Linked DNA regions of Homo sapiens: region 1 is linked to region 2. Evidence: fine-mapped expression QTL. A gene starts in region 2. The other region holds a variant in brackets. All regions are shown on one strand. Distances are between the middles of the regions. Region 1 overlaps GTF2F2 (general transcription factor IIF subunit 2). Region 2 holds the start of GTF2F2 (general transcription factor IIF subunit 2).

Region 1 (16,516 bases), 130 kb after region 2:
TGTCCAGGATGGTCTCGATCTCCTGACCTCGTGATCCGCCCTCCTTGGCCTTCCAAAGTGCTGGGATTACAGGCGTGAGCCACCGCGCCCGGCCTATTTTTTTATTTTTTAAATTATAGCCATTCTTGGAGGAGTAAGGTGGTATCATATTGTTTGAGCCCAGTTATTCTTGATGCCTTTATTTCTCCTTTATCTTACTTAGGCACCACTTTCTATTGAATCTGTTTTCAAAATATTTCCTAAATTTGTTTAACTTGAGTCCCACTCCTTTACCATCACCCTGTTCCAAGTGAATATTATCTTTCCTCTGGATTGGTACAGTAGCTTTCCTAGTCAGTGATGTCCATTTTTGCCCCATTCTATTCTGCAAATAGTAGCCAGAGGAATATTTTTAAAACACAAATTTAATTCCTTGCTTCAAAAATTCTCTGATTTTTCATTAATCTTAGGATTTAAAATACTTACGACAGTCCATATATTTCCTACTTGCCTTCCTAGATTTTACTCTGTGTAAATTCACTTTAAAATTAAGCTTCATTGGCTGGGCACGGTGGCTCACGCCTGTAATCCCAGCACTTTGGGAGGCCAATGCGGGCGGATCACGAGGTCAGGAGCTCTAGACCATCCTGGCTAACACGGTGAAACCCCGTCTCTACTAAAAATACAAAAAAATTAGCCTGGCGTGGTGGCGGGCGCCTGTAGTCCCAGCTACTTGGGAAGATGAGGCAGGAGAATGGTGTGAACCCGGGAGGCGGAGCTTGCAGTGAGCCGAGATAAGCGCCACTGCACTCCAGCCTGGGCGACAGATCAAGACTCTGTCTCAAAAAAAAAAAAAAAAAGTTAAGCTTCTTGGCTGGGCACTGCGGCTCACGCCTGTAATCCCAGCTCTTTGGGAGGCTAAGGCGGGCAGATCACTTGAGGACAGGAGTTCGAGACCAGCCTGACCAACATTGCAAAACCCTGTCTCTACTAAAAATACAAAAAATAAAATAAAAATCAGCCAGGTGTGGTGGTGCATGCCTGTAATCCCAAGAATCGCTTTAACCTGGGAAGCAGAGGTTGCAGTGAGCTGGTATCACGCCACTGCACTCCAGCCTGGGAGACAGAGAGAGACTGTCTCAAATTAAATTAAGCTTCCTGAATATAAGCTATTCTGTTAGACAGATACCTGGTTTTTTTGTTTGTTTGTTTTGTTTTTGAGATGGAGTCTCTGTCACCCAGGCTGGAGTGCAGTGGCCGGATCTCAGCTCACTGCAACCTCCGCCTCCTGGCTTCAAGCAATTCTCCTGCCTCAGCCTCCCAAGTAGCTGGGAGTACAGGTGTGTGCCACCACACCCAGCTAATTTTTTGTATTTTCAATAGAGACAGGGTTTCACCGAGTTGGCCAGGATGGTCTCGATCTGACCTCATGATCCACCTGCCTCAGCTTCCCAAAGTGCTAGGGTTACAGGCATGAGCCACTGTGCCCGGCCACCTGTATCCTGTATTTTATTTTTAGTGTTTTTGATGTTATAACTCAGGCAAATAATTTAGGGACTACTTTCAAGCTTCACCAACTTGAATTTCCAAGAATACCATTCTGAAGTTACCTAAAATTAAAATTGCAGTTTTTGTTGTTGTTGTTGTTTGTCTGTTCATTTGTTTTTGAGATGGAATCTCGCTCTGTTGCCCAGGCATGAGTGCAGTGGAGACATCTCAGCTCACCACAACCTCTACCTTCTGGGTTCAAGCAATTCTCCTGCCTCAGCCTCCTGAGTAGGTGTGATTACAGGCGTGCATCACCACACCTGGCTAATTTTTGTATTTTTAATAGAAACGGGGTTTCACCATGTTGGCCAGGCTGGTCTCGAACTCCTGACCTCATGATCTGCCCACCTCAGCCTCCCAAAGTGCTGAGATTACAGGCGTGAGCCACCGTGCCTGGCCTGATTTTTTTAAATAAATGGAGTTTTATTTCATTAGAATGAATACTAGTTCAAGCTTGACTAAATTTGTTACTTGATACTTAATAGTCTTACATTGTGACAAATAGATATGCGTGATTTATGACTAGAATAGCAATTATTTTATAGATGTACTGTATGTTTCCAAGCACTTTCTCTATGTCTATGGGGAACACCAGAAGGCATGGTTAGTCCTGGCATTTGAAGAATATATATTTATATTCTGAATTTGCACCAAGTTTTTTTTGTGTTTTTTTGTTTTGTTTTGTTTTTTGTTTTTTTGTTTTTGTTTTTGTGTGTTTTGTTTTTTTGGTTTTTGTTTTTTGTTTTTGAGACGGAGTTTCGCTCTTGTTGCCCAGACTGGAGTGCAATGGCGCGATCTCAGCTCACTGCAACCTCTGCCTCCTGGGTTCAAGCAATTTTCCTGCCTCAGCCTCCTGAGTAGCTGGGATTACAGGCGCCTGCCACCATGCCCGGCTGATTTTTTTGTATTTTTAGTAGAGACTGGGTTTCGCCATGTTGGGCAAGCTGGTCTTGAACTCCTGACCTCAGGTGATCCACCTGTCTCTGCCTCCCAAAGTGCTGGGATTACAGGCGTGAGCCACCACTCCCAGCCAGCACCAAGTATTTTTTTAATGGTTTACAAAACAAAGTAAAATGTAGCCTGGCTGTATCTAAGTGATCAGCCATTATTTTTCTATTTGTTTCCTGAAAACAACACTGTATTTTTAAATTTTCTGAAAAAGTGGAGACTCATTTTTTAAAATGGTCAGGGTAGCCTTTTAGCTTGCTCCCAAGTCAGCCTAATACCTCTGTGTAGTTTGTTTGGAAATATGTGGTGCTTTACGAACCACATATTTCCAAATTATATTATTTTGTACAAACCTAGATAAACCTTACCTTGACTTTGAAAGCATATCAAGGTCAGTAATGTTTAATTTAGTACATTGTTCAGTGATGAAATGGAGTTGCCAGTTGTTCTTGTCACTTCATGAGATAGTGTTAAATGAATTATTTAGTGTTAAGGACCCTGCTAAATTATTTTAAACGATTCAAAGCGAGTTAAAGTATTTTAAGATTTAGTTCTTTGTTATATTTTCAGTTCATACATTAACCTTTTTAGTTTTGAATCATAAGTTGTCCTCTTTTAATTAAAACCCTTGTGGTTGCCTTTTAAATGTATGATAGAACAGTTAAATTTTTAAAATGAGTTTATTTTTAAAAAAAAAATCAGTGTTTTCCTTTATGTAAAAGGTTAAATGCTTTGAGGATAAAAACTGCATGACACTGTATGAGTGATGAAATTGGCTTTTAGAATTGTAGAATTAAAATTGAAAGGAAAGTATGCTGCATAAACCTGAGTCTGGATGCAGTGGCTACAAATAAATTCAAGTGTAAGAGTGTGACCAGAATAAGCTACCGTTTATAAAGAAGCACTTCACTAAACAAACTGAAACCCTGAGGAATTTTCAAATTGTGAAGTAATGGGAACAATCATTTAATATGGAAGGAAGGAGCTAGTGCATGCCTCCTTCCTTGGATGTCTCATAAGATCAAATCGTGGAGATGACTGAAACAGGGAAGATAATTTAGCGGCAACATAACAGATTACCATTTAGAGAGGCCAAACCCCTGAGAGCTGATTGCATTAGAGGAGGATGGGGGGCCAAGATTAGGACACAGGTGTGTTCAGAAACAGGCTGACACTTACTTGTGTTTCCCACCCACTCCCATCCCCCACCAAGTTAACACATTTAGCTGTCCCGACACTTTGTAAACATTCCTATATCTGTCTTCAATCTTTTTTCTCTCTCTAAAGGTTTATCTCTTAGAAGCTTTGACATAACTTTCCTTGGAGGAATCATTTCCACCTAATCTTTTTGCCTTATCTCTTTTTTTTTTTTTTTTTTTTTTTGAGACAGTCTCTCTCTGTCACCCAGGCTGGAGTGCAGTGACACGATGTTGGCTCACTGCATCCTCCACCTTCTGGGTTCAAGCGATTCTCGAGCCTCAGCCTCCTGACTAGCTGGGATTGCAGGTATGCACTACCATGCCCAGTTCATTTTTGTATTGTTAATAGAGACAGGGTTTCACCATGTTGCCCAGGCTGGTCTTGAACTCCTGACCTCAAGTAATCTGCCTGCCTCCACCTCCCAAATTACAGGTGTGAGCCACTACACCCAGCCTGCCTTATTTCTTATAAGCATGAGCAGCTCTGCTCCAGTTTACTCTCAAAATGCACACCTTGGGATTAATATTTTCTTTTTATCAGTATGCAGTCAGTTGTCCTACCATCCCTCCATCACCCTTGTTCATCTTCAGTACTGCAGTTAATTATAGTATTAAATGCTTGTCTTCCACTAGAGCAAGTCTTTACTGCTATGTCTCCAACCTCTAACCCAGTGCCTGGCAGAAGTGGGTACCCAGTAAACACTTGCTGGATAATTGACAGCAAGAGGCTCCTTCCAGAGTCTGGCTGTGGCACAGCTGCAGCCAGAGGCAGATACAGGAGAATGGTAAGGAGAACTGGAGAGATACGCAGGGACTAGATCCCAAAGAGTCTTAAAGTCCTATGAAGGAACTTGTGCTGCACCCCGAGAATAGTAAGAGGCCATCGAAGAATCATTAATCTAAATCCATCCTTGGGTTGCACATCTCCCTTCTAGACTCTAGCTAGTTGATTTCTCAGTCTTAGCAAGAAAATTTAATCCTTGTTCATAGAAACTCTGTGTGGCACATGAAAAGCAAAGTATAATTGTAAGTATTATTTATGGTTACATATCCAGTAAGTTTCTAAAGACACTTCCAGAGAACTTTTTGTACTTTATAAAGTAAATCATCTTGTGTATTTAAAGGATAAGCATGGATTTATATGTAACTGGAATAATTTAAATATTTACATTTCCATACAGAAATGAGTATACTGAATTTGGGGATCTTGGTAAAAACAAAACCTATGGCATTTTTAGATTTCAAATTGAAAAGGCAATTGGTAAATATCTTATATCTTCTCAGCAATTTGATAGTATATACCTGAAAATAAGCAGAAGTAAATAGAGAATTATCTTCATCCAAGGAATTAAATAATAGGAATGTTATACAGACACCTTTTATACTTAATTCTGCTTTTGAAGGAATTTAAAATGGAAATTGTTTTTAATTTCTATTTTATTGAACCAAAGAATTTAAAGTCCCATTCAAATAAAATAATACATAATGTTAAACTTGTATTATTTTTTAATAGCCAGCATTTTTGTGGTTTTCAAATGAACCATCCAAGGAATTATAGTATTTCTTCTCTTTTTAAGAAAGTGTACTTCTTCAGGTTATAAAAGTAGTAAATACTTATTGCAGAACATTTAGAAAACAAACTTAAAATGCATCCAGTCTGATCTCTTCCTTCCCATCTTTCATGTTAGTTTCACCATTTAAAAAAACTGCCTTTTTTTTTTAATTAAAGGCAATTTTCTAACATCGTTTTCAATTTTTTTGCTGTAACCATTGCATCTCACTGCTTCCTATTGGATTCATTTTCCTTCTTACTGAAATAAATTCTTGAGTAGTTTCTCAGTGAGGATCTATAAATAATAAACATAAGCTTTTGTCCAAAAATGCTTATGTTTTACACTTACTCTTCAATTGTAATCTAACTAGATATGTTAGGCAATTTTCTTAAAAAACTGCAATCTTATATTTTGATATCTTGCTGATGAGTTTAAAAGGTACAGTGATAACTTTTGCATCATTAAAAATAGTTGGCTTAGAAAGCTGTACTTTTCCTTCCTTAAAACAGTTTTTTAAATTTACTGTGCTGATATACCAAGTGAATTAATTTTCTAAATAAGTAAATGATTATAAGCCTTGCTATACTTAATATAAAACAAAATATCCTAAGATAGCTACTTAAATATACATGTACTAGTCAGCTATTGTTTTATAATATACTATACATGGTGGCATATATTTTCAAAAGCAGTGTTTTGAGTTATATTTTATTTTCTGAGACATGGTCTCTCTCTGTTGCCCAGGCTGGAGTGCAGTGGCACAGTCACAGCTCACTGTGGCCTCGACCTCCCAGGCTCAAGTGATCCTACCACCTCAGCCTCCTGAGTAACTAGGACTACAGGCACTGTGCCTGGCTAATTTTTTTTTTTCTTAATTTTTTGTAGAGACAGGATCAGTTTAGATGGTGTCCTGCAGTAGTTCTAGAGCAGTGCTGTCTAATAGAGGTTTCTGTGATGATAGAAATGTTCTCTCTCTGTGCTGTTCAGTAAACCTTGAGTGTTGATGTATTCTCTTTTTATTTACCTTTATCTTTTATCAGCTGAGTAGACATTTTGAATTAATAACTTGATTGATTTTAGACCATGTAATTTAAGATGATTTATTTTTACATGAAGATTTTTTCCCCCAGAAATTTAAGGCTGATTAGCTTCTTGGTTTTAGTGGTTAAGATTTGCCTATATAATAAGCGGGTGAAAAGTACATTGTGGCATTATAATGAGTTAGTTTGTATATTTAGCTTGTGTACTGGTTTCTGCATTATAGTCACGTATATTCAGTGCATTTTTAAAGTATTAAAGCTAGTGTATCCTCTGAGGTTACCTTTTTATATATTAGTTTTCATTGAATAAGAATTATAGAAATAATAACTCTTCATATTTCACTCTGCTAAACAAGAGTGTTAATAATGCCTTATATTTTTTTTCAGATTGCAAATAGAAGAGTCTTCCAAACCAGTGAGGCTATCACAACAGCTGGACAAAGTTGTAACAACCAATTACAAACCTGTTGCTAATCATCAATACAATGTAAGTCTTCTGCTTGTCTCTTTTCATTCTTTTATATCTTCATTCTTTTCTGTATCATAGAGTCTTAGGTTTCCAAAGAACCTGAGAATTTACACACCTTGCCATCAGGTGCTTGAATTACAGTACCTGATCTGGACTTAGTAAGGAATATGACAATTTGCTAAAAGTACAGAAAAGATGTTCACTCTACATTGCAAGTTATATCATGGCAAAAAGAAGGCAACCACTGTTTAAAGTACCCTTGATAAATTTTTACAAAGAAGTAAAACACTTCAATTCTCAATGTTGCAATGTTGCTGATGTTTTAAATTACAATGTACTAACTAAATATTAGTTTTACTATTTTTAAAAATTATTCTATACCTTTGTGATGAACCATAAGAAAGTTTTTAATGTGTTAAAAAATTTTAAAGGTCATGGAACAGCAGTAATTTTTCTCATTGATTATTAAGATCACTTTGCCTGATTTCAGCTTTCACAGGCATTTTAATGGTCTCATACTACCATGCAAAGTGAGGACCATCTGTACAGTAGTACTCCCTTGTCCACAATTTTAAAACTTTATGCAGTTTCAGTGACCCACAGTCAACTACAGTCAAAAATATTGAATGGAAAATTCCAGATGTAAACAATTCATAAGTTGTAAGTTGTGCAACCTTCTGAGTAGTATGATGAAACCTAGCACCATCTTGCTCCATCCCATCCATGATGTGAGTCATTCCTTTGTCCAGTATATCCACATTGTATATGCTACCCACCCATTAGTCACTTAGTAGCCCTCTTGGTTAACAGATCTATTGACACATGATAAAAAGAAAGAAGAGGCTGGGCGCGGTGGCTCACGCCTGTAATCCCAGCACTTTGGGAGGCCGAGGCAGGCGGTTCACAAGGTCAGGAGATCGAGACCATCCTGGCTAACACAGTGAACCCCGTCTCTACTAAAAATACAAAAATTAGTCGGGC[A/G]TGGCGGTGTGTGCCTGTAGTCCCAGCTGCTGGGGAGGCTGAGGCAGGAGAATGGGAGGCGGAGCTTGCAGTGAGCCGAGATCACGCCACTGCACTGCAGCCTGAGTGACAGAGTGACAGAGCGAGACTCCGTCTCAAAAAAAAAAAAAAAAAGAAAGAAGAAGAGTGAGTACAGAACACCAAGATATTTTGAGAGAGTGAGAGAGAGAGAGACCACATTCACAGACTGTTATTACAGTATATTGTTAGGGTTATTCTATTTTATTATGGGTTATTTTTGTTAATCTCTTACTGTGCCTAATTTATAAATTGAACTTTATCAGAGATATGTATGTATAGGAAAAACCATAATATATAGAGTTTGGTACTATCCACAATTTCAGGCACCAAGTGGGGCAGGGAGGTGTCTTGCAACATATCTCCTGCCAATAAGGGGAAAGTATTGTATATTTATATTTCAAGACTTTTTTATTGTTGTGTATCTTATATGTACTATATGTATTATACAATATACACATTTATTGCATACATATTATGTATACTTTGTGCCAGGTATTGGTCTGAGTGCTTCGTAAGTAATGACACTTAATCTTCATACCAACCCTATGAAGAAACTACAACAGATAAGGTAACAGGCAGAGAGACTGGCTTACCTGAGGTGGTGCAGCCAGTAATTTATCAGTCCAGGTGTTGAACTTAGGCAGTCTAGCTTAGGAGCCATACTGTTAACCACTGTGTATGTTGCCGCTGGTGATTAGCAGTTGCTAAAAGGGCTAAGGGTTTTGGGTTTTGAAATATCTGTAATGTAATAAGTGTGATGGTTTCCTGAAAATAAAATACCTAAGTTAAGTCAAATAGCAATTAACAGTTGGAATTTTGTATCCCACTTTGTTGTTTAAGATTACCTTTGATACTGAGTTTAGGAAGAAAATTTTCTTTAAGACTAGCCTTGGCAGAGTGCGGTGGCTCACGCCTGTAATCCCAGCACTTTGGGAGGCCAAGGCAGGTGGATCACCTGAGGTCAGGAGTTCAAGACCAGCCTGGCCAACATGGTGAAACCCCATCTCTACTAAAAATACAAAAATTAGCCAGGAGTGGTGGCAGGCACCTGTAATTCCAGCCACTCGGGAGGTGAGGCAGGAGAATCGCCTGAACCCAGGAGGCAGAAGTTGCAGTGAGCCGAGATCACACCATTGCACTCCAGCCTGGGGGACAAGAGTGAGACTTTGTCTCAAAAAAAAAAAAAAAAAAAAAAAAGACTAGCCTTTAGTATCAACATTTATTAAGTGACACAGGATAGCATCTACCAAACTACTACTTTATGATATTTGAATGGTTATTTTATATGAAAGTAGCAAATGCCACTAGGGCTAAGTAGATATCTTAAATGAGTGGAACAATGAAATTTAAGAAAGTCAGTGTTAGAGACTGTGTGAACTGGAGTGCACATGACCCATATAAATACATTCACATTTTGAAATTGCTACACTATGTGAGTTAAACAAACCAGGTAAAAGTTCAACTGCATTCAGCCAAGCTTTCATTTTATAGCCTCTGGTTATGCTTTAGGAGGAAAATAAACTAAAGGACAGGTAAGGTTTCAGATGATCCAGAAGAGGTATTTTTCTGTTGTTTTCTGACTTAGATAAATAGATTAAAGTCCACATCTTTGTTCTCTTCCATTGTAGTCTTTTCTACTGTTGGATGGGAATACACACAGTTTTCTGAGAGCTACGTGTAAATAGAGATTCTATTCTACTTTGTAAAACAGTATAGATCTTAGTTGTTTTTGCCTTTCTTCCTCATTGGTGTGCTGCTTCTGTAGCTCCTGACTCACCTTTTTTATCCTTTTATGGGCCAGGCTTCTCTGTGATTTCTACCCTTGTGTATATTTTTATTACAGTGGGTACAAGAAAGACTGCACTTTCATAGGCTGTAAAGAGTTGTTACCTTTCTAGAGGGAAGTTTGGTAATTTATGTCAAATGCACTATAAAAGGATATATCCTTTGACCTAGCAGTTTTGTGTCTAGGAATTTATTATAGTGAGACCAGTGCTCAATGATATATATACAATAATGCTTCTCTCTATTATTTAAGATAGGAAAAGATTGGAAACAAGTGTCCCAAATTGGGGATTCATTAAATAAATATTTTAAGTCATTATTTTTGGATGGTAGGATCTACGTGATTTTATCCTAATTTTCTTTTTTATAAAATCTTCTCCAATTGTTGAAATTGTCACAGTGAGCACGTATTGCCTGAATTGTTGGTAAGCAATAAAGTTATGTTGGGAAGGGGAAGATTGGAAAGGAAAGAAAGCCAGGGAAGAAAGCCATAATAGTACCTTACTGATTGTCTAAGATTTACCTTCTTTAAACAAGTACTTTTTAAATATCTGCTTCGTGTCTGAGATACATACCCCTGGTGAATAAAGTAAGTACAAACATGTTATATTCTGAACTCCTTAGTATATAAAGCTATAGCACCCTCTATAAAGATAATTAACATTAAGTGACATTTTAGTTCAAGATATCAACCTTTGTTAAGGTTGTCATAGTGAAAATGAGTCATTATAGTAATGAATCTTTGATTAAGATTTTTACATCCAAACAAAGATTGACTATAATCTACCACATTGCATTTGAATGTTTAATCATTATTTCTTTTGGGAGTAAACCAGGATAGGCACCTGCATAGCTTTAAAAAACATATTCAGTATTGTAGTGTAATACCAACTATAGAAAGAGTATAACATTTTTGTTATTTATTAGAAGAGGACATTGACTTTTAAAAGACTGAGAAACATAAACGAACACAGGTCAGCAAGAATGATTTAGAGGAAGCATAATAAAGACTTTTAATAAAAAATTTTAACTCGATATAATGTTGAAATGTTTTGAAAGTCTTGCCAGATAAAGTTATATAAACATGAAGCTCAGTGTTTCATTCTAACAGTTGAGCTTCTTTGAATGCAATTTTCAGAATAAAAATTCAAAAAAAATTTGTACAAAAAAGTGAAAGAGGGACTGGGAAATTGCATATGTATTTGAAAAACAATGTTCCTACATTTGGTCAGAAAGAAACTACCTTGCATTTACCCACAGTTTTTTCACCCACCTATGGCAAATAGATGAATTTACCTGTATATATGTAAAGAAAATATCCAATTTTGTTCTTGGAGCTATTCTAAGAATTAAATTCAGATTTATCTTTTTAGTTCACAAACTATCTGGGTATAATGTCTGTCATACTTGCCATTCAGAAACCATCTACTGGGCCAAAAAGAATTATATGATTATTTTTATCTCTTAGAATACTCCATTGAAATCGCACCCCTGAAAACCATCTTCTTACTAGGATATGACATGTCAGGTTTTTTTTCCCTAAGTGGCATTTCCTGTACCTTAAATCTTCATTGAGTGTCTGAAACTTGAATCAGTTCATGTAGGTCAGCATTTTCCACAGTAAATTTTTTGTAACATTAACTAGGTGAGATGGTCACATAAAAAGGATTCTGTGTTTAAAAAACTTGTAGTTTCTGATTATATCCTCCTCTTAAATTGACACTTCACTTTAATATACTCAAGATTAGTAAGCTTTAGGAATTTGTTTAATCCTGCACTTACAAACATTTGAACATCAAATTTCCCCCCATTGTTTGAAGTAGTGAAAACAGACATTGGGAAATAATGGAGATGTCAAAGTATGGTTTACAAGAGGGCCCACTGGGTGAGGGGGAAAATTATTATATTTATATTATTATAAAACTTACATGTATCTTGTTTGGCACCTAGTAAAGGAAAGAAACTGAGCTTTAGAAATACTATGTAGATTGACCCTGGCATCTTTTTGCAGCTCCTGTGCTAGTCGGTCGTTTTTCAGCAGAAGAGCGGAAATGGGACAGGACAGAGGGGTTGAGCGTTGTGCCTTCATGTTTTCATTTGCTTTCAGCTTTTTAGCATTGGTGCTCAATTCAGAGATTTACAGATTATAGTATCTATTTTTAACTAAACTCAGTCTCAACAAATGATTTCTGCAGAGAAACTGTCAATTAGAGATAATACTAATAAACCAAGCATATGTGAACAAGAAAGTGAAAAACTGAACTTCTCTTGCTTCTAAAAATGGTTTATCAGTCAATCTTTGAGGTGACAAACAGTGATGATGTAATCAGATCTGAAAAGAACTTGGCCCTTCCAAAAAGGAAATTATCAGTATCATTTTAAATATGGCTTGTCATGCCCTGTCTTTAATGATGACTCAGTTAGTGTCTATGGTGGAATCAAAAACAACTCTAGATATTCCAAGCAGAAAAGAATGTAATGTAGGGAGTTAGTTACAAATGATTTAGGAATACCAAATGGATGGGCTGGAGTTGCAAAAGGAAGAAGAGATCAGGAAGCTGCTGCAGAGGTGCTCCTGCAATACAAAAAAAAAAAAAGAAGAAAAATCTCCCTCCCTCCCACTTTCATTCTCCTATTGGCAGAACCCCAGCTGGAAACCCGCTAGCAAGGGAATCTTGGAAATGTAGCCTGCAGACCTCTTGCCACCCCACCCTTACCACCAAGGCTAGAGTTGAAGACTTGTTGCAAAATAACTGGCAAAGTGGCCCTTGACCTTTGTGAGTGTTGTACCTTGTTATATTAGCTTAGCTATTGCTGATACAAAGCTATCACGGTGTTCAATGTATTTAAAAACTAAGCATACAGAACATGAATGCAAATCACTGTATTTTGAGAGCAAAACGAAAACGTATTTTGTAGTTTTGACAAAACTTACTCTTAAAATTATACTCTTTCATCCCTTTAAAATTTTTTATCTTGTGTATGCTTATATCTATTTATAAATACAGTAGTACGTTTGTCCAGTTTATAAAGATATATGCATAGCTCATGCTTTTAATTTTTTGCTCACAAAGGTGTATAATCAAAGTTATAGAGTCAGCTGATGCGTAAGGTTCTTTGCAACTCCCTCCAACTTTGAATCCAAGTAAGGGCGACTCTGTGTGTTCTGGTTGACTTTGTGAACATCGTATCTAGCCTATGTAAATTTCATAGCATTCTTTTATGTATTTCATGGCCTCTTATAAACTTTCTCATAAGGAATTCCTTTTCTTCTCATAAGGAATCATGTCCTCTGTTGTCTAGACATTTGTTTTCGGTGTTGCTGTATACTAGAATCACCTGGGAAGCTTTTAAAGAAGAAAAATAGGCCGGGTGCGGTGGCTCACACCTGTAATCCCAGCACTTTGGGAGGCCAAGGCAGGTGGATTACCTGAGGTCAGAAGTTCGAGACCAGCCTGACCAACCTGGTAAAACCCCGTCTCTACTAAAAGTACAAAATTAGCTGGGTATTGTGGCACATGCCTGTAATCCCAGCTACTTGGGAGGCTGAGGCAGGAGAATTGCTTGAACCCGGGAGGCGGAGGTTGCAGTGAGCCAAGGTCATGCCACTGCACTCCAGTCTGGGCAACAAGAGCGAAACTCCATCTCAAAAAAAACAAAACAAAACAGAAAAATACCCTCAGAAACTGATTTGGTTAATCTAATGGGGAGGCCAGCCATCTTAAGTTTTTAAGCTTCTTGGGTAATTCTAGTATGCAGCCACTGAACCAAAGAGATGAGAACTTTTTATAGTTCTGCCATCTCCTGTTGAGGGTGGGGTGTTCAGTAATGGTACTTAGAAGGAAACCTCTTTCTCGCAAACCTAGAACTTTTTTTTTTTTTTTTTTTTTTTTTTGTGAGACAGAGTCTCGCCCTGTTGCCCAGGCTGGAGTGCAGTGGCACAATCTCGGCTCACTGCAAGCTCCGCCTCCCGGATTCATGCCATTCTCCTGCCTCAGCCTCCCAAGTAGCTGGGACTACAGGCGCCCGCCACCACACCTGGCCAATGTGATCCACCCATCTCGGCCTCCCAAAGTGTTGGGATTATAGGCGTGAGCCACTGCGCCTGGCCAAACCTAGAACTTTTAAAAAGAATTAATATTTCTTTTCTTTGTTAGAATTTCTGCCCCACAGTTTGAAAAAATAAGTTTTCTCTCTCTCATTTTTTTTTTTCTTATTTCTGGTAAAAGCTCTTGGCCAGAAAGAACTCGAAAACCTTAACTGTGCTCAGATGGGTAAGAGAAAAAAAAGAAAAGCTTACTTAGTAAACTGGTTGTTGAGGTAAACCCCCAGGAACTAGAAAGGAAATTCATTTTTATGCATATATGCTCTGTTCCCTTCAGTGTGGCAGCCGACTGTGTTAGTCTGCAGAACTAAGATTTGGGGTTTGAGTGGTTGATCTTTTAAAGTTCTATGCATAAATTTGAATTTTCCTAAATAAAAAGGATGTTTGTAGGACTATATCATGAGGGCTTTTCAGTAATATTTGCCTGTTATAATACATAGTATAAGTATACTACATGCTTTGTCCATTTGAATTTGCACACAAAGGACTGACCAATTCTAAAGAAATAATTTCCTCCCAAGAGATAATGACACACTAGGCAGAAATAGAAGCATTAGTTGAGGGGAGGGGGAATAATATCTCATAAGGATTTAACATGCAGAACCATGATATTCAAAGCTGTCATGCTCACTTCAAAAGTTAAAAGGCTTTACAAAGACTGCCTTGACAAAACACAGTATTTCTGCAAACAATAATCTAGAAGTTTATAGATGTCTGTATTATAAATTTTAATTGGTAGTGGGTGGCATTTATAATTTTAGTCAGTGATTACAGCTTCAGTAATGATGGTTGAACATATATATACCAAATCCACAAAGGATTGTCAACATTTGGTTGCATTTTAGTCAAGAATAGGCTGGGCGTGGTGGTTCACACCTGTAATCCCAGCACTTTCGGAGGCTGAGGCGGGTGGATCACTTGAGTTTGAGACCAGCCTTGAGTTTGAGACCAGCCTGGGCAGTATAGCCAGACCTACCTCTTCAAAAAAATTTTAAAAATTGGCTGGGTATGGTGGCATGCCCCTGTAGTTCCTGGAGTTCGAGACCAGCCTGGCCAACGTGGTGAAACCCTGTCTCTAATAAAAATACAAAAATTAGCCAGGCATGGTTGCACACGCCTGTAATCTCAGCTATTCAAGAGGCTGAGGCAGGAGAATCACTTGAACACGGGAGACGGAGGCTGCAGTGAGGTGAGATTGCGCCACTGCACTCCAGCCTAAGCAACAGAGTGAGACCCCATCTCAAAAAAGAAAAGGTTTGGGGGCCGGGTGCAGTGGCTCAAGCCAGTAATCCCAGCACTTTGGGAAGCCGCAGTGGGCGGATCATGAGATCAGGAGATCAAGACCATCCTGGCTAACACGGTGAAACCCTTTCTTTACTGAAAATACAAAAAATTAGCTGGGTGTGGTGGCACGCGCCTGTAGTCCCAGCTACTCGGGAGGCTGAGGCAGGAGAATCACTTGAACCCGGGAGGCTGAGGTTGCAGTGAGCTGAGATAGCATCACTGTACTCCAGCCTGGGGGACAGAGCAAGACTCCATCTCAAAAAAAAAAAAAAAAAAAGAATAATTTGTGTTCTGTTGTGAAAATTAATTGTATATGATGGATTTTTTGGTAAAAATTTGTAACTGAAGACTAAAGTACTTTCTGAATTGACATTTATTTCTATATAGTCAGTTGCGCAGTGATCTGTGATCATTGGATAGAAGATTGGTAATTAAAATTCACACAATATAAAAGCTGTTTCTACTCCAGTCTTACTAAGAGTTGTAGTGGCTGCCAACAAGTTAGATATCTGACTGCTTTAATATCATTTCCTTACAGTGCCTGAGCTCCACTGAGAAACAAAATGCCCAAAAGGCAAGGAGCTAAAAAGAGAAGAAATAACATTATCTCAAAACTGTAATCTTCTCCTAAATAGAATAGTTCATATCATTGGTAGTTTATTTGTACAGTTAATTTTATTTGTAGTGTCAAGTTGTGAATATAGTATTAAGATTACCATTTCTGCACTGTTTAGTTTTAAAAAATTACCTCAGTGACCTTGGTTTTGTCCTAACTATAAGTTATTAATAACTTAATGGCCATGGAAATTATTTAAATCCCCTTCGATAATTACACATACACTGGAACTACTTATCTGATACCACAGAGCAGAATTTGGATTATGAGCCTGTCTTAGACATTATCAAAAAAAAAAATTTAACTGGCTGGGTGCAGTGGCTCATGCCTGTAATTCCAGCACTTTAGGATGTCAAGGTTAGAAGATCACTTGAAGCCAGGAGTTTGAGACCAACCTCGGCAGTATAGCCAGACCCTATCTCTTCAAAAAAATTTTAAAAATTGACTGGGTATGGTGTCATGCCCCTGTAGTTCCAGCTACTTGGGAGGCTGAGGCAGGAGAATAATTTGATCCCAGGAGGTTGAGACTGCGATGAGCTATGATCACACCACTGCACTCTAGTCTGGGCGACAGAGTGAGATCCCATCTCTAAAATTAGTTAACTAATTAAAACAATAATATTTTTGTAGTACAGTATTAGTTAAATCTTTAATTTATTTTTGAGACGGTGTCTCACTCCGTTGCCCAGGTTGGAGTGCATTGGTGCATTCTCAGCTCACTGCAGCCCCTGCCTCCTGGGCTCAAGTGATCCTCCCACCTCAGCCTCCCAAGGAGCTTGGACTACAGGTGAGTGCCACCACACCCAGCTAATTTTTGTAGAGGCTGGGTTTTGCCATGTTCCCCAGGCTGGTCTCGAACTCCTAAGCTCAAGCGATCCGCCCACCCCAGCCTCCCAAAGTGCTGAGATAACAGGTGTGAGCCACTGCGCCCGGCCTAATCTTTATTTTG
Region 2 (15,559 bases):
CCAGCACTTTGGGAGGCCAAGGTGGGTGGATGGATTACTTGAGGTCAGGAGCTCAAGAACAGCCTGGCCAACATCACGAAACCCCAGTCTCTAATAAAAATACAAAAATTAGGTGGGCCTGGTGGTGTGCGCCTGTAGTCCCAGCTACTTGGGAGGCTGAGGCACAAGAATCACTTGAACCTAGGAGGCAAAGGTTGCAGTGAGTCAAGCTCGCACTACTGCACTCCAGCCTGGGCGACAGAGTGAGAGACTCTGTCTCAAAAAAAAGAAAAAAAAAAAAAAGGCCGGGTGTGGTGGCTCACACCTGTAATCCCAGCACTTTGGGAGGCCATGGCAGGCGGATCACCTGAGGTCAGGAGTTTGAGACCAGCCTGGCAACATGGTGAAACCCCGTCTCTCCTAAAAATACAAAAATTAGCTGGGCATGGTGGCGCATGCCTGTAGTCCCAGCTTCTCAGGAGGCTGAGGAAGGAGAAGTGCTTGAACCCAGGAGGTGGAGGTTGCAGTGAGCTGAGATTGTGCCCTCCAGCCTGGCAACAGAGTGAGACTCCATCTCAAAAAAACAAAAAACAAAAAACAAGGGAAGAAGTAACATCATACATGAGACCTTGGAGATGCAATCAGAAAACTCTAGAATGTAGAAAACTGTATAGCAGGGCCGGGTGCGGTGGCTCACGCCTGTAAGCCCAGCACTTTGGCAGGCCGAGGCAGGCGGATCATGAGGTCAAGAGATCGAGAGCATCCTGGCCAACATGGTGAAACCCCGTCTCTACTAAAAATACAAAAATTAGCTGGGCGTGGTGGCAAGTGCCTGTAGTCCCAGCTACTCAGGAGGCTGAGGCAGGAGAATCGCTTGAATCTGGGAGGTGGAGGTTGCAGTGAGCCAAGATCATGCCACTGCACTGCAGCCTGGCAACAGAGCGAGACTCCGTCTCAAAAAAAAAAAAAACACACACAACAACAACTGTATAGGACAAGTAAATTAGTTTTTCATCAACAACAATGATGGAGAGTGGTGTATGAATCAGAGAGAGAGGAGGAGAGAGAAGGGGAACAGAGGGAAGGCAAGGAGAAAGGAGAGGAGAGGACTAAGAGACATCAAAACCAACCACAATGTATGGACCTTATTTGGCTTCCAATCTAAACACACTGTAAAAAAAAAAAAAAAAAAAAAAAAAAGAAAAGAAAAAAGGCCAAAGTCATATACACTCTTTTTATCCTTTCACTTTTCCTTTTGGCTGAAAAATGCAGACATTACGGTCCCCCATGCAGACAAGGACACCACACAGGGATGGCAAAATATGAGATGGAAGGACCATGGTCCCCAAACAGCTTTATATGCAGCACAGCCACCATGTCAGCTTAGTCGTTTACACACGAGGGAAGTGAATTATGTTGACAAAACTATGGCAAGAGCTTGAGCTATAGAAAAGGTCCTTAAACTGAACATTCCTTGACTCCACCCATTGATATTTATCTAATATTTTCACCTACCCCTGGATGTGAAAACTGTCCTCCCCTGATGCTTGTGTATTTGGGGAGGAAATCCATCAAAAAGGAAGCCCCTAGCTTTTGCCCTTAGTGGAATGTGGACACAATTGCTCATTGATATTCAGCACACATGGCTTCTCTGGCTTTGAAATCTGAACACTAGTGAAGATCTGTCTGTTTAATATGGTATTTTAGGGCTTATTCTTATTTGTGGTTTTTATTTGGGCACTTTGATCAAGTATTTCAGTGCTGTTTCCTAACTATAATTTTATTTAATATATAAAATATGATATACATGTTTTGGTAAATTACATATGAAAATAAATTGGATTTCAATACAGTAATGATGAATTGAATTTTCTCATGCTTTATTTAACACTTTATTCCCACAGCAATACCTAATGAGCAATTAAAGTGACTTACTGAGAGTGAAGGCTTCTTGCAGGTCACAGCAGCCATATGTCACATCAGACATAAGGCACTGAACAGAAGCAATTCAACGGAATCATGTCATCCATCAGGCAAAATACATGCAGAGTCTTGTCTGATCTCCCAGAAGGAGCAATGCTGTGTGTGTATGTTTTGTTTTGTTCTCTTGTTCTGAGTTATCACTTGGTAGATGGTCCTGTTCCTATTTTGCTATACAGCAAAGAATTACAAAGCCTTGTCAATTCTGCCTCCTAAAACTATCTCTGATATTTTCAAATTGATCCACTTCCTTTCATCTTCACTACCACTTCCCTAATCAAAACCACTATCCTTTTCCATTTGGATTAGTAAAATAGTGTCTCAACTAGTCTCTTGGTTTTCATTCTGGTCTCCTCCAATCCATTTTTTCCACAGCAACTACAGGGATCTTTTGGAAATGTAAATATTATTTTATATTCAAGCTTAAATTGGCTGGGTGCGGTGGCTCACGCCTGTAATTCCAGCACTTTGGGAGGCCGAGGCGGGCGGATCACGAGGTCAGGAAATCGAGACCATCCTGGCTAACATGGTGAAACCCCGTCTCTACTAAAAATACAAAAAATTAGCCGGGCCTGGTGGCGGGTGCCCTGTAGTCCCAGCTACTCGGGAGGTTGAGGCAGGAGAATGGCGTGAACCCGGGAGGGAGAGCTTGCAGTGAGCCAAGATAGCACCACTGCACTCTGACCTGGGCGAAAGAGCAAGACTCCATCTCAAAAAAAAAAAAAAAGCTTAAATTAACCTTCCAGTTGGCCAGGCATGGTGGCTCATGCCTGTAATCCCAGCACTTTGGGAGGCTGAGGCGGGTGGATCACAAGGTCAAAAGTTCGAGACCAGCCTGACCAACATGGTAAAACCCTGTCTCTACTGAAAATACAAAAAATTAGCCGGGTGTGGTGGCGTGTACCGGTAATCCCAGCTACTTAGGAGGCTGAGGCAGGAGAATCGCTTGAACCTGGGAGGCGGAGGTTGCAGTAAGCCAAGATCGCGCCACTGCACTCCAGCCTGGGCGACGGTGAGACTCCGTCTCAAAAAAAAAAAAAAAATTCTCCTTCCAGTTTACATTTGCTGTGTACAAGGTCTCCAAGGCCTTGCATGGTCTAGCTACTCTCTCCCTCTTCAGCCAATGGCACTGCCACAGTTTCACTATATCCTGCCCACTGGCATCCTCTCTCTCCCACAGACACCAACATACCAGGGGCTTCCCTCCTCAGGGTTTGCAGATGCTACTTCCTTTTCCTAAAATACTGCTGAAGAAATAAATAATATTAAACATAAAGGTAATAAACACTTAATACTCATCACTTCCTAATTATTTTCTGTATTTTATTATTATCCGTGCTCTTAAATTATATTTAATATATCTACCTAGTGAAAAATACTATACAATGTATTACAATACTATACAGCTTATTTATTTATTTATTGAAACTTAGTCTCGCTCTGTCACCCAGGCTGGGGTGCAGTGGCATGATCTTGGCTCACTGCAGCCTCCACCTTCTGGGTTCAAGTGATTCTTGTGCCTCAGCCTCCTGAGTAGCTGGTATTACAGGGGTGTACTATCACTCCCAGTTAATTTTTGTATTTTTAGTAGAGACGGGGTTTCTCCATTTTGGCAAGGCTGGTCTCAAACTCCTGGACTCAAGTGATCCACCCGCCTGGGTCTCCCAAAGTGCTGGGATTACAGGCGTGAGCCACTGCGCCTGGCCTATAGAGTTTATATACTATACAATGTACAGTGCCTCTCTTCCAAATTTGCCTTCAGTGATCTCTTCTTGGCAGCTTGAAATCAGCTATTGCAGAAATACTTGCACCATGGAAATTGGCAAACACTACAAATCAGGGCTTTCCTGGGGGTAGGGGAGTTTAGGGAGCCCAGCTGTTAAACACTTGCCAGTATACTGCTGCCTATAATAAAACTTTTGTGTTTCCTTTCAATTATTTATATAATTGCAATATATATAACTGCAATATAATTAATGCAGTTACAAAATAATTTCCACATCATAATGCTAAATTCTTTTAATATGTTTTCTCGTTTAGTCACATAATAACTCTACAAAGTGAGTATAGTAATTCCATTATATAAGCAAGGAAACAGGTGCAGAGAGATTAACATAATTAGGCTGGTACGCAGCAGAGGTATCACTTGGAAATATGTTTGACTGGCCAGGCACAGTGGCTCACGCCTGTAATCCCAGCACTTTGGGAGGCAGAGGTGGGCAGATCACCTGAGGTCAGGAGTTTGAGACCAGCCTGGCCAACATGGTAAAATTCCATCCCTACTAAAAATACAAGTTAGCCGGGCATGGTGGTGCATGCCTGTAGTTCCAGCTATTTCAGAGGCTGAGGCATGAGAATTGCTGGAACCTGGGAGGTGGAGGTTGCAATAAGCCAAGATAGTGCCACTACACTCCAGCCAGGGTGATAGAGCAAGACTCTGTCTCAAAAAAAAAAAAAAAAAAATAGTAAAAAGCTTGACTCCAAAGCTCATGCTCTCTCTCTATACTAAACAATATGGAAACTATTTTAGGAAGTATTTCTTTTTGTTTGTGTGTAACTGGGGAAACAAGGGATCTCCCAGGAATTTGGGCATTCTATGAAGGAGGGAACTGTTAGGGTTGAAGGGAAAGGCAGGGAGAATTCAGAGACGTTTTATAGCCTTGGTGTCATAACGAAGCAAAATTATCTACCTACTACATCACTGATGTCAGGGAAATTGAATGAATTACCACAATGCTGTATTCATTTGTAATTTTTGAATGACAATGTTTATGTTAGTAACCAATAGGTAATGAGTCTGGTCTATTAAGAAAGACCTGGTGGTAGCATTTTTTGCCTATATGAACTCTCCTGGAGGTAATACTTTTTCTTGCTAGAATGTTTCTGAGTAAGTGTGAACAAAGAAAATCTCTGGCCTGAAGAGATCAGGCCTGTGTATGATAGACAAGGACAAAATCTGAAAGTGAACTCAGCTATCTGTTAAAGTCATTCTAATTCCCTCAACTCACTTGTAACATCTCGCCTAATGGCTTTGCTGCTTATTCTCTAATAGCTACCTGATAGAATTGTGGTGTTCTGAATTAACAAGGCATGAGGGAATTCTAGCTGTAAGGCTTTCTGGTAAATTTTTTCACGTGTCTCAGACTTTGGAAACTGGCCCAGTTCTAATGAACTATATTGATTAGAAAAATATCGATTAGAATTCTATCGATTAGAACTCTATCATTTAGAACAATGATTCTCAGATTTTGGTGTGCCTAAGAAACACTCTGGGAGCTTGCTAAAAGTGTCAATTTCTAGACTCACATCCAGAAAGTCTAATTTTGTTTGCCTGGATTGGGGCTCAGGTGTCTTCATTTTAAAACACATTTCCCCCAGGTAATTCTAATGCAACTTGTACAGGAACCAGAGGCTGAGAACACTCATCTAGACTGAAGCATGTTTTGTGGTGGGTGTGGTGTTAGGGGTTTTTCTTGCTGCAGCTAGTCTGGAAGACACACAAAAAAGAACGTAGTTCTGCCTATTAAGCAGGTTGGGGCTGGGCATGGTAGCTCATGCCTGTAATCCCAGCATTTTGGGAGGCTGAGGTGGGTGGATTGCTTGAGCCCAGGAGTTCAAGAGCAGCCTGGGCAACATGGTGAAACCCCGTCTCTACAAAAAATACAAAAATTAGCTGGGTGTGGTAGTGTGCACCTGTAGTTCCAGCTACTTGGAAGGCTGAGGTGGGAGGATAGCTTGAGCCCGAAAGGTCAAGCTGTAGTGAGCTGTGATCATGTCATTGCACATTCCAGCCTGGGTGATAGAGCAAGACTCCGCCTAAAAACAAAAACAAAAACAAAAACAAAGCAGCAAAGAAGGTTGGGTGGCCTTGAGGTCTGACCTAGAATCTAAGCCCTAGATAAAGATGGAGGTTCAAGTTGGCCTAAGCACTACCAGACTTTTTGGAAAAATTGCAGCCAGCAATGAGTTCTTGGGCCCTCCTTCCTAGAATTGCATTTGCGCCTTAAAAATTTTGGTAACAACTTGACTAGTTAATCATCTGAGGGAGTAAAAAATTTTGGTGTTACCTTCTCTGGGGCACTGACTTCTGCATCCTATGCTCTGTGAGCCCCATCCTGGGATATGGTCTCAGCTCTTGGATGTTGATATGTTTAATGACATATAGGGCTATATTGAGGAAAAATAATACCTACTCTGGCAAATTGTTATAAGGATTAAATGGGATAATACAGAAAATAACTAGCTGAGGATCTGGCATATAATGAGTCCTTAGGAAGGTGAGGGATCTGCCTGTAGTATCTATCCACCTTAAGGGTCTCCACAGTAAATCTGTGAATTTGGTTCATAGGGGCCATGCCCTCCTTTTCTATCAGGGTTCTGTAAACATCCCTCTTCAAGCTAGAAGGGGTTTGAAAAGGACAGACAGGAGAAGCTTGCTCTTTGTTCAACAGCGTACGAGGAAGAGGTGCTCAATACGTTGTTTTTTTCTTTCTTCTATGTATCATTTTAAAATCTCCACTTTTCCGTTCTTCGCTAGCCCTTTCATCAGCCATTTTTTTTCTCTCTCAATCTCTGTGTACACACACATACACACATACCCACACCACGTACACATTTTAAGGCCTCCCATGACCCAGAGACCAAAGCCAGGGTTCCAATCTTTAAAGTCCATTCCTGGGGTGCTCTAGACTTTGCTTCTCTTCTCCCATGGTCTCATATTTCAATTTATTCCTTCTCCTTGATTAAAGTTTAGAGCAGTTCCCTTAATCTGCTTACTCTTTATATGTTTTAAAAAGGCCCTTTTCCAAGTTGTTGCACAAGAAGAAACCTTCATTTTCTGCTTAAAAAAATTTTTTTTTGTTTTTCTTTTTTTTTTAGAGATAGGGTTCTTCCTATGTTGACCAGGCTGGTCTCGAACTCCTAGCCTCAAGTGATCTTCCCATCTCGGTCTCCCAAAGTGTTGGGATTACAGGTGTGAGCCACTGCGCCTGGCCAAAAAAATTTTGTTTTTAGTATTTATTTTTTAGAGACAGGACCTTGCTCTGTCACCCAGGCTGGAGTGCATGGCACGATCATGACTTACTGTAGCCTTGAACTCCTGGGCAGACACAATCCTCCCACCTCAGTCTCCCAAAGTTAGGGTTACAGGGTTGAGCCACTGAGCCTAGCCTGAAACTTTCATCTTCAACACACTCCTGGTCTCTCCCATCTTTCCTATTAGTTTTCCTAGCTAAAAGCAGAGTTCTGACAGCTTTTCCTGGCCCTATGCTGAACACACATAAAATTTCCTCAATTTTGTGCAAGGCTCTGATGTGTGATTCAATAAATTACTTGCCATTCTTAACAATACCTTACTGTTTGTTTCTCTTCAGCGAATGTTCTTTCACCCAAAGCCTACTGAAACCTGACAATGTGTTAAACACTGTGCTAGACATTGTGGATATAAAATGAATAAAGCACTATTTTTTATTTGTCAATTATACCTCAATAAAGCTCTTTCCGCCTAGGAGGAGTTCATTGTCTGGAAAGCAAAGGCAGATATGTAAACATATATATTATAGTTCAGAGTGCTAAGTATCACACTGTGATGTGAAGAAAAACTAATTTCTTCTGGGGAAGTTGATAAAAGATCTCATAGGAAGTGACATTTTCATTGGTCTTGAACCATAAGTAGGAGTTTGCCAACCAGAGCACAGGGGTGAGAGTGAGGGCAGGGGTAAAATAGGGCTTCCAAGGGAAGGGAATCCAGTGTGCAGAGGCTCTGAAATGACCGACGAAGATTCTGACGTGTTTAGGGAAGTCTGCTGGGTTTGATGTGGTTTGGTGCATGGCGGAGTGATGGTGGGAGGTGCAAAGAGATGAAATTGAGAGGGCCCAGTTGAAGCAGGAGGATTGAACTTTATTCTAGAGGCAATAAGAGAAAGAGAAAACTGTTTAAGCAGGGGAGGAAACGATCAGGTTTGTCTCTTACTTGTTCGTTTCGTTACAGACTTCCGGGTTTTGGAAACTGAGGTGCTCCGCTTGCTTCATCAGAACAGCTCGGGTAGCCTCTGAGCTGAAACACGGCTTTTTTTTTTCCAGGTCTAGAAACGGCATGTTTTCAATATACCCAAGGCTACTAAGTTTGATCCCAGTGCCCATTTGTGCTAATGACGTTGGCCAGGGACGCCAATTTACTACCCTGACCCTGTCCTTCAAATATTGTCTCTCTCTCCTTGGCTAGGGTTGGACATGTTCTGACACCTTTCGTCTCTTTGAACCCCATTTTTCCGTTCTGATAATCTTTTTCTTCAGTTATGCTGACCATGTCTTTAAATACATTGCTAACGTTTTAGCTCATCCCACCCTACGTTTTAATCCCTCAGATGCAGACATCGCGGACAGCCACGCCCACTCAAGAAATTTCCGAAACAGAAAGTTTGTCTGCAACAGCGCGCCGTACTGACGTAGCAGTGCGCAGGCGCAGTCCCGGCTCCTGGCGGCGTGTTCCTCTTTTCCTCGGTTCCCAGTGTTCTGGCAGGTAAGGAACGCCGGCTCTTCGCCTCTCAGCGCGGCTTGTCCTTTGTTCCGGACGCCCGCTCCTCAGCCCTGCGGCTCCTGGGGTCGCTGCTGCATCCCGCACGCCTCCACCGGCTGCAGACCCATGGCCGAGCGCGGGGAACTCGACTTGACCGGCGCCAAACAGAACACAGGAGTGTGGCTAGTCAAGGTAATGTTCGCGAGTCTCCCACTTGCGCTCCTCCTAACACAAGTATAGTTTAAGTAACTTGAGCCTATCCCGCTCCGTGCGCCTCTTAAAGTTCTTTTACGGCTATCTCGTTAGAGCTTCACACATTTTGAGAGGCAGGAGTCATTGTTGTATCTGTTTGCAGACGAGGAATTAGTTTAGGGACGCAAAGTGTCTTTCAGCCAGTTACTACTCTGAATCTGCCTGGACTAGATCTCTTTCTCACGGCTTTCCTGGAATCTTGTCTTGGTGTCCCCAGATTTGGACGGTGCATTTTATCCCAGACTGAAGAATTCCTTGTATCTTCCCTTGGTGAAACTGGTTTTAGCCATGAGCCTGCGTGAGGTAGTTGAATGTCTACTTTCTGTACAGTTTTCTCGGCCAGAAAGTAGGACTGGTCCCTGCCTACTCTTAAAAGTGTTCTCTTAGGTTGATGGTCCTTAATGAAGCTCTCAAAAGAGGCGAGAGAGCCCCAAACTCACAGAAGGAGAGGTCATTGGACTGGAGTATTCTTTTAGAGCACATTTGGGTCTCGTGAAACTGGCCGTCAATAAACGTTTTATGTGAAGACAGCAATTTTGGTTAGCTCACAGTAAGCACTATTTGTGCTTTATTGTTTCATATTGGGGAGTGTTTTCTCCTAGGGGAGTTTCATAATACTTAAGCATATTCAAAATGTGATCCTGAAAGTCGTTGAAACTTAAAATGTAAGGACTTTTGGTTTCTTAATGCTTTAACTGTTTTATCACATGGCTGAGTTCTCGTCAATTAAATCTAAGAGGTCTTTCTTGTCGGCCTTCCTAAAACAGCCCCCTTGTGATCATTTGCTAACACGACAGATGTGTATTACATTCTTCAAAGCACTTTTCACAGTGTAGAGTGATTTTGTGTTCATATGTTCAAAGTTGGTTACCTCTGTCTTTCCAACACACAGAATCACATTCCATGAGAACAGGATCTTTGCCTGTCATACCCAGAATAGTGTTTGGCGCATGGTAATTACTCAACAAATAGATGATGAATAAATGCATGACCTCTCATTCTTCAGCCCTCGCCTTAGTCTGTGGCACTCATTTGACTTATTTCCAAACTCAGTGTGACTTAAAAGGATGGATTAAATAGGCATTTCTCTCTCCAGCAGCATGTTACTTGGGGGGAGAGTCACTAAGGAGGAGATTGCCCTTACGGACTGAAGGAAAAAGCTTGAAAAAATGGTGTGACTTGAGATGGTGCCATTGTCCTAGGAGCATGGTAAATGCTCAATGTTTGTCTTACAGGATTTGGATGGGTGGACACAGTGTATACCATGGGGAATGGAACAGAAATGCAAGACTCAAAATATATAATCAGCATGGCGTGTTGTGGAAAACAGAGAGAACCTAGAGCAGAAGATCTGTGTAGATGAAGATGGGGACCATATACTCAGATTGTCATATCATGAAACGGAGATATTCTAACTTTAGTTTACAAGGAAGTAACGAACTTTTTGGAGGATTTGAGTGAGGTAGAGATGCCAGATATTTATTCAGGAAAAAAAAAAATGTTTGGCAGTGTGCAGTACGAATTAGAGGGGAGGGTAACCAGAGTCACAATTAGAAAATTATCACAGGATCGGGCTGGGCATGGTGGCTCACGCCTGTAATCTCAGCACTTTGGGAGGCCGAGGTGGGTGGATCATGAGGTCAAGAGTTCGAGACCAGCCTGGCCAATATGGTGAAACCCCATCTCTACTAAAAATACAAAAATCAGCCAGTCATGGTGGTGTGCGCCTGTAGTCCCAGCTACTTGGGAGGCTGAGGCAGAAGAATCACTTGAAACCGGGAGACGGAGGTTGCAGTGAGCCGAGATTGCTCCGTTGCACTCCAGCCTGGGCAACAGAGCAAAAATTCCTTCTCAAAAAAATAAATAAATTAAAAAAAAGTGTAATTTGTTGCTTAGAAAGTGTATCTTCATTCTCATCTAATCAGAATTTGAATTGAAGTACATATTGATTTCAAGTTTTTTCTCCTTACATTAATTTTCCTATTAAAAATAATACCTTGAGTTCTGATCTTTGTTGCTAAATAATGTTTCTTCCTAGGATATCTCACGGTTTATAGATCATCTTGTACATATTTAATTCCATCACTAGACAGGTATAGAACTGTGTAAATACAGTAAGAACTATACATACAAGATCTCTGAGAGTTTTGAGCGGGAAAAAAATTAGTGCTTCACCAGAACTGGGAAGACATCATAAAGAAGGTGACGTTTAAGAAAAGCCTATTTGGAGGTTGCAGTGAGTCAAGATTGTGCCACTGCATGCACTCCTGCCTGGGCGACAGAGTGACATCCTGTCTCAAAAAAAAAAAATGGATGTGAGTGTGATCTGTCTGGGACATCTGTCACCCCATTGATTACTAGGGTTGATTTGGCTAATCTGGCTGGCTAGGCGGGTGTCTCCTTCCTCCCACACTGCTCCATGTATGTCCCTCCCGAAGCTGCACGCTTGACCAAAGAGGATGACCATCCGGATAGAGGAGGACTGGTCTTCAGTCAAGGGTATATGTATGGTTGTACTCCCCTGCTAGAACCTCCAAAGAAGCTTTCAAGAAGAGCTTATGGCAGGCCGGGTGCAGTGGCTGATGTCTGTAATCCCAGCACTTTGGGAGGACGAGGTGGGCGAATTGCTTGAGCCCAGGAATTTGAGACCAGCCTGGGCAATATAGCAAAACCCTTTATCTACAAAAACTATAAAAAGTTAGCTGGGCGTGGTGGTGTACGCTTGTAGTCCCAGCTACTTGAGAGGCTGAGGTGGGAGGATCACTTGAGCCTAGGAGGTTGAGGCTGCAGTGAGCTGAGATCACACCCCTTGTACTCCAGGCTGGGCTACAGAGTGAAACCCTATCTAAAAAGAAAAAAAAAAAAACAACCAAAACCTACGGGCAGGACTGGGGATAAATAGTGTGTTTAGGGAAAAACAAATATAGTAGTAGATTGTTTACCAAAATAACAAAATATCCAGGACCTGTACTGTTCTGGCCTAATGAAGTGCTATTTCTGGAATTTTGAATTTTTTTTTTTTTTTTTTTGGCTGAGCACAGGGGACTTTATTGATGGCACATGACAAGGCAGGGCTCCCTAGGCCCCTCCCTCTTCAGGGGGTCTGCATGGAAGCTGTGAGGAGGGGAGAGTCTTAGTGTGGTTGGGGACTGAGTATGGCAGGGACTCCCCAGCATTGAGGGTCTCTCTCTTCCTCTTGTTCTGTCACTGGGGCTGGTGGTCCAGGGGTCTTACTCCTTAGAGGCCATGTGGGCCATGAGGTCCCCCACCCTGTTGCTGTAGCCAAATTCATTGTCTTACCAGGAAATGAACTTGACAAAGTGGTCGTTGAGGGCAATGCCAGCCCCAGCATCTAAGGTGGCGCGATCTCGGCTCACTGCAAGCTCCACCTCGTGGGTTCAAGCGATTCTCCTGCCTCAGCCTCCCGAGTAGCTGGGACTATAGGTGCCTGCTACCACGCCCGGCTAATTTTTTGTATTTTTAGTAGAGACGGGGTTTCACCGTGTTAGCCAGGATGGTCTCGATCTCCTGACCTTGTGATCCACCCGCCTCTGCCTCCCAAAGTGCTGGGATTACAGGCGTGAGCCACTGCACCTGGCCTCCCCACTGGCCTTTTTAAAAAATTATTTTTGCGGCCAGGCATGGTGGCTCATGCCTGTAATCGCAGCACTTTGGGAGGCCGAGGCGGGTGGATCACCTGAGGTTGGGAGTTGGAGACCAGCCTGACCACCATGCCCAGCTAATTTTTGTATTTTTAGTAGAGATGGGGTTTATTTTGTTTGTTTGTTTGTTTTTGTTTTTGAGATGGAGTCTCACCCGGTCACCCAGGCTGGTGTGCAATGGCACAATCTCAGCGCACTGTAACCTTTGCCTCCTGGGTTCAAGCTATTCTCCTGCCTCAGCCTCCCGAATAGCTGGGATTACAGGTGTGTGCCACCACACCCACCTAATTTTTTGTATCTTTAGTAGAGATGGGGTTTCACCATGTTGGCCAGGATGGTCTTGAACAGCTGACCTCGTGATCTGCCTGCCTTGGCCTCCCAAAGTGCTGGGATTACAGGCATGAGCCACTGTGCCCAGCCAAGACAGGGTTTCACCATGTTGGCCAAGGTGGTCTTGAACTCCTGATTTCAAGTGATCCACCCACCTTGGCCTCCCAAAGTGCTGGGATTATAGATGTGAGCCACCCTTCCCGGCTAGCTTTCATTTTTTCACAGACAGGCAAGCGCTTGGACATTGGTGGCCAAAGAGAAAGTTATATACAAGGGAGAGATGAAACTGGAATGGGTGATACCCTAAAGCCTTGCAGATAGTAGGAGAAAAAGGAACTTAACATTTCTTGTGTAGCGAGTATTTTGCAAAGCAAACCGGTAAAGTAGGTATTAATTACCTGTATTTTTCAGATGATAAAATTTAAGGTTAGGGAGGTTAATTATCTTGCCTAAGCATGGAAATAGTGATTCAAATTTGTTAGGCTAAAAGCTTTGCCATAGAAATTTTTTTTCCCCTTTGCGTCTCTCTGTTTTTTTTTGTTTTTGTTTTTGTTTTTGTTTTTTTGAGACGGAGTGTCGCTCTTTTGCCAGGCTGGAGTGCAGTGGCGCAATCTTGGCTCACTGCAACCTCCACCTTCCAGGTTCAAGCGATTCTCCTGCCTCAGCCTCCCGAGTAGCTGGGGCTACAGGCGCGGGCCACCACACCCAGCTAATTTTTGTATTTTTAGTAGAGACGGGGTTTCACTGTGTTGGCCAGGATGGTCTCAATCTCTTGACCTCGTTCGTGATCTGCCCGTCTCGGCCTTCCAAAGTACTGGGATTACCGGTGTGAGCCACTGTGCCCAGCCCCCTTTGTGTCTCTTTAATGGGTTATCTCCCTAGAGATTCAGAGGTGAGGTGGGGACTTCATTTTTATGTCTTTGGTCTTGTCAGTTCTGTATCTTGAAGTTCAAGGAAACATGGGAATAAATGCTGCATGTCATAGATTGGGTTCCCTGAGCAGCTGATTTTGAGATGGAGACAGGGATTTATTAGTGAGTACTCTTGGGATCAGCATGTATGGAAGGAAAAGGATTTAAGCAAGATTGGGTAGAGCATGTAAGGCAGTCTCAGTGAAAAGCCAGGATGATTCCACAGGAGCCCTCCAGAGCTGTCCTCCTGTCCCAGCCAGTCAGTGGATATGGTTTGCCCCAGTAAGTGGGCGTGACCTTGAGCAAGGGGTCTTTCTTTAGTGGAGGCAATTTCAAAGAGGCCTAATAGCTGAGGGCTGTCTGCTGGCCACACTCTCAGCAGCTGTGGGAATAATGCCCTCAGTGCTGAAGGGGGAATCTGGGTGTCACATCATGATGTCCACTTCAGTGCTTTTAATTTTCTGGGAGAAACAGGGCTTTAGAGGCTAGCAGTTGGGGAACTAGATATTTGATGAAGCAAAGTTGGCAAAGAAGCACCTTGGCTTCAAAGGGAAGAACGACTTTTTTTTTTTTTTTTTTTTTTTTGAGATGGAGTTTCGTTCTGTTGCCCAGTCTGGAGTGCAATGGTGTGATCTTGGCTCACTGCAAGCTCCGCCTCCCGGCTTCAAGCGATTCTCCTGCCTCAGCCTCCTGAGTAGCTGGGATTACAGGCGTGCACCACGACTCCTGGCTAATTTTTGTATTTTTAGTAGAGACGGGGTTTCACCATGTTAGCCAGGATGGTCTCAAACTCCTGACCTCGTGATCCCCCTGCCTTGGCCTCCCAAACTGCTGGGATTACAGGCGTAAGCCACTGTGCCCAGCGACAAGAACCACTTTCTTATGCTGCCCAGTTTGAGTGAATGGGTGGGCAGATTGATTCATCCCACAAGCTTTCAGTGATTGCTAGGCTCTAAGTATGTTACAGTGAACAAAACGGACATGGTATATATACTGTGTAAACTACGACTTATAGCCCAGTATAGGAGACAGACATCAGTCAAATATTGGTCTTAACGAAAACAATTATTTTCAGAGAAGGACACTGAAGCAAGGAATATTGTTTCTGTGCATGTGAATAGCAAGGGACTTGTCCTGGTCTAGGAAGTCAAGGGAGGTTTCCTTGAGGAAATAATGCTGTAGTGAGTTATTTTCTGTCACTTTCTCTGGTATTGGGAAATCTAAGCAACCATACCCTGTTGTACTTATTACCTTGTCTCCATCTGATTTTCAGTAATGAGTGAGATAGTGGAAATAACACAGATACATCGTAAGTGATATGTTGACAGTGGTGTTTTGGAGCCTTGAAACCATATATACTGTCATTTTTTTCTTCCTCTCCCTCCCTCTTTTGAGACTTAATAGGCCGGGACTTCTGGGAAGCCAATTTCTGTAAGTTCGTGGTGTAGAGAGTTATATATAATTAATGTGCTATTATTATTATTTTTTATTGCAAGGGTGTAGTATTTTAGGAACCTTTGAATTAAATAAGCTGGTGGGCTTACCTGGGAATCTACAGTTTTATTATAATAATGAAGACAGTGCAATATGAGCTGCAAACTTGTTTTTGTCCATTAACTTATGGAGCACAATCTGCTTTTTTTTTTGGTCTTTCTTTTTGAGACAGGGTCTCACTCTGTCTCCCAGGCTGGAGTGAAGTGCTGTGAATTCGGCTCACTGCAACCTCTGCCTCCTGGGCTGCAGTGATCCTCCTGCCTCAGCCTCCTGAGTAGCTGGGACTATAGGCATGTGTCACCACGCCCAACTAATTTTTTTTTTTTTTTTTGTAGAGACAGGGTTTCACCATGTTGCCCAGGCTGATCTCAAATTCCTGGACTCAAGCAGTCTACCCACGTTGGCCTTCCAAAGTGCTAGAGTGTTGGGATTAT

Evidence for each region. PIP is the estimated chance that this variant, and not a neighbour inherited with it, causes the effect. A credible set is the group of variants that fine-mapping cannot tell apart.
Region 1: its variant is the best candidate, but not a certain one, in a credible set for the expression of GTF2F2 in whole blood (INTERVAL, PIP 0.78).

Annotation. Positions count from the first base shown.
Region 1 is chr13:45,246,217-45,262,732 of GRCh38, forward strand. GTF2F2 (general transcription factor IIF subunit 2) reads left to right here. Exons shown (of 8, transcript NM_004128.3): 6 at 6,655-6,754. Among named protein-coding and RNA genes, the nearest start is that of KCTD4, 53 kb to the left of the region's middle. The variant A/G (reference allele first, on the strand shown) is at 7,718.
Region 2 is chr13:45,112,054-45,127,612 of GRCh38, forward strand. GTF2F2 (general transcription factor IIF subunit 2) reads left to right here and starts at 8,457. Exons shown (of 8, transcript NM_004128.3): 1 at 8,457-8,668. The coding sequence starts at 8,603. LOC101929259 (a long non-coding RNA gene) reads left to right here. Exons shown (of 3, transcript NR_120424.1): 3 at 1-1,153. It also overlaps the pseudogene RN7SKP4. RefSeq lists enhancers at 8,087-8,730, 8,491-8,620, 8,731-9,372 and a silencer at 11,685-11,878.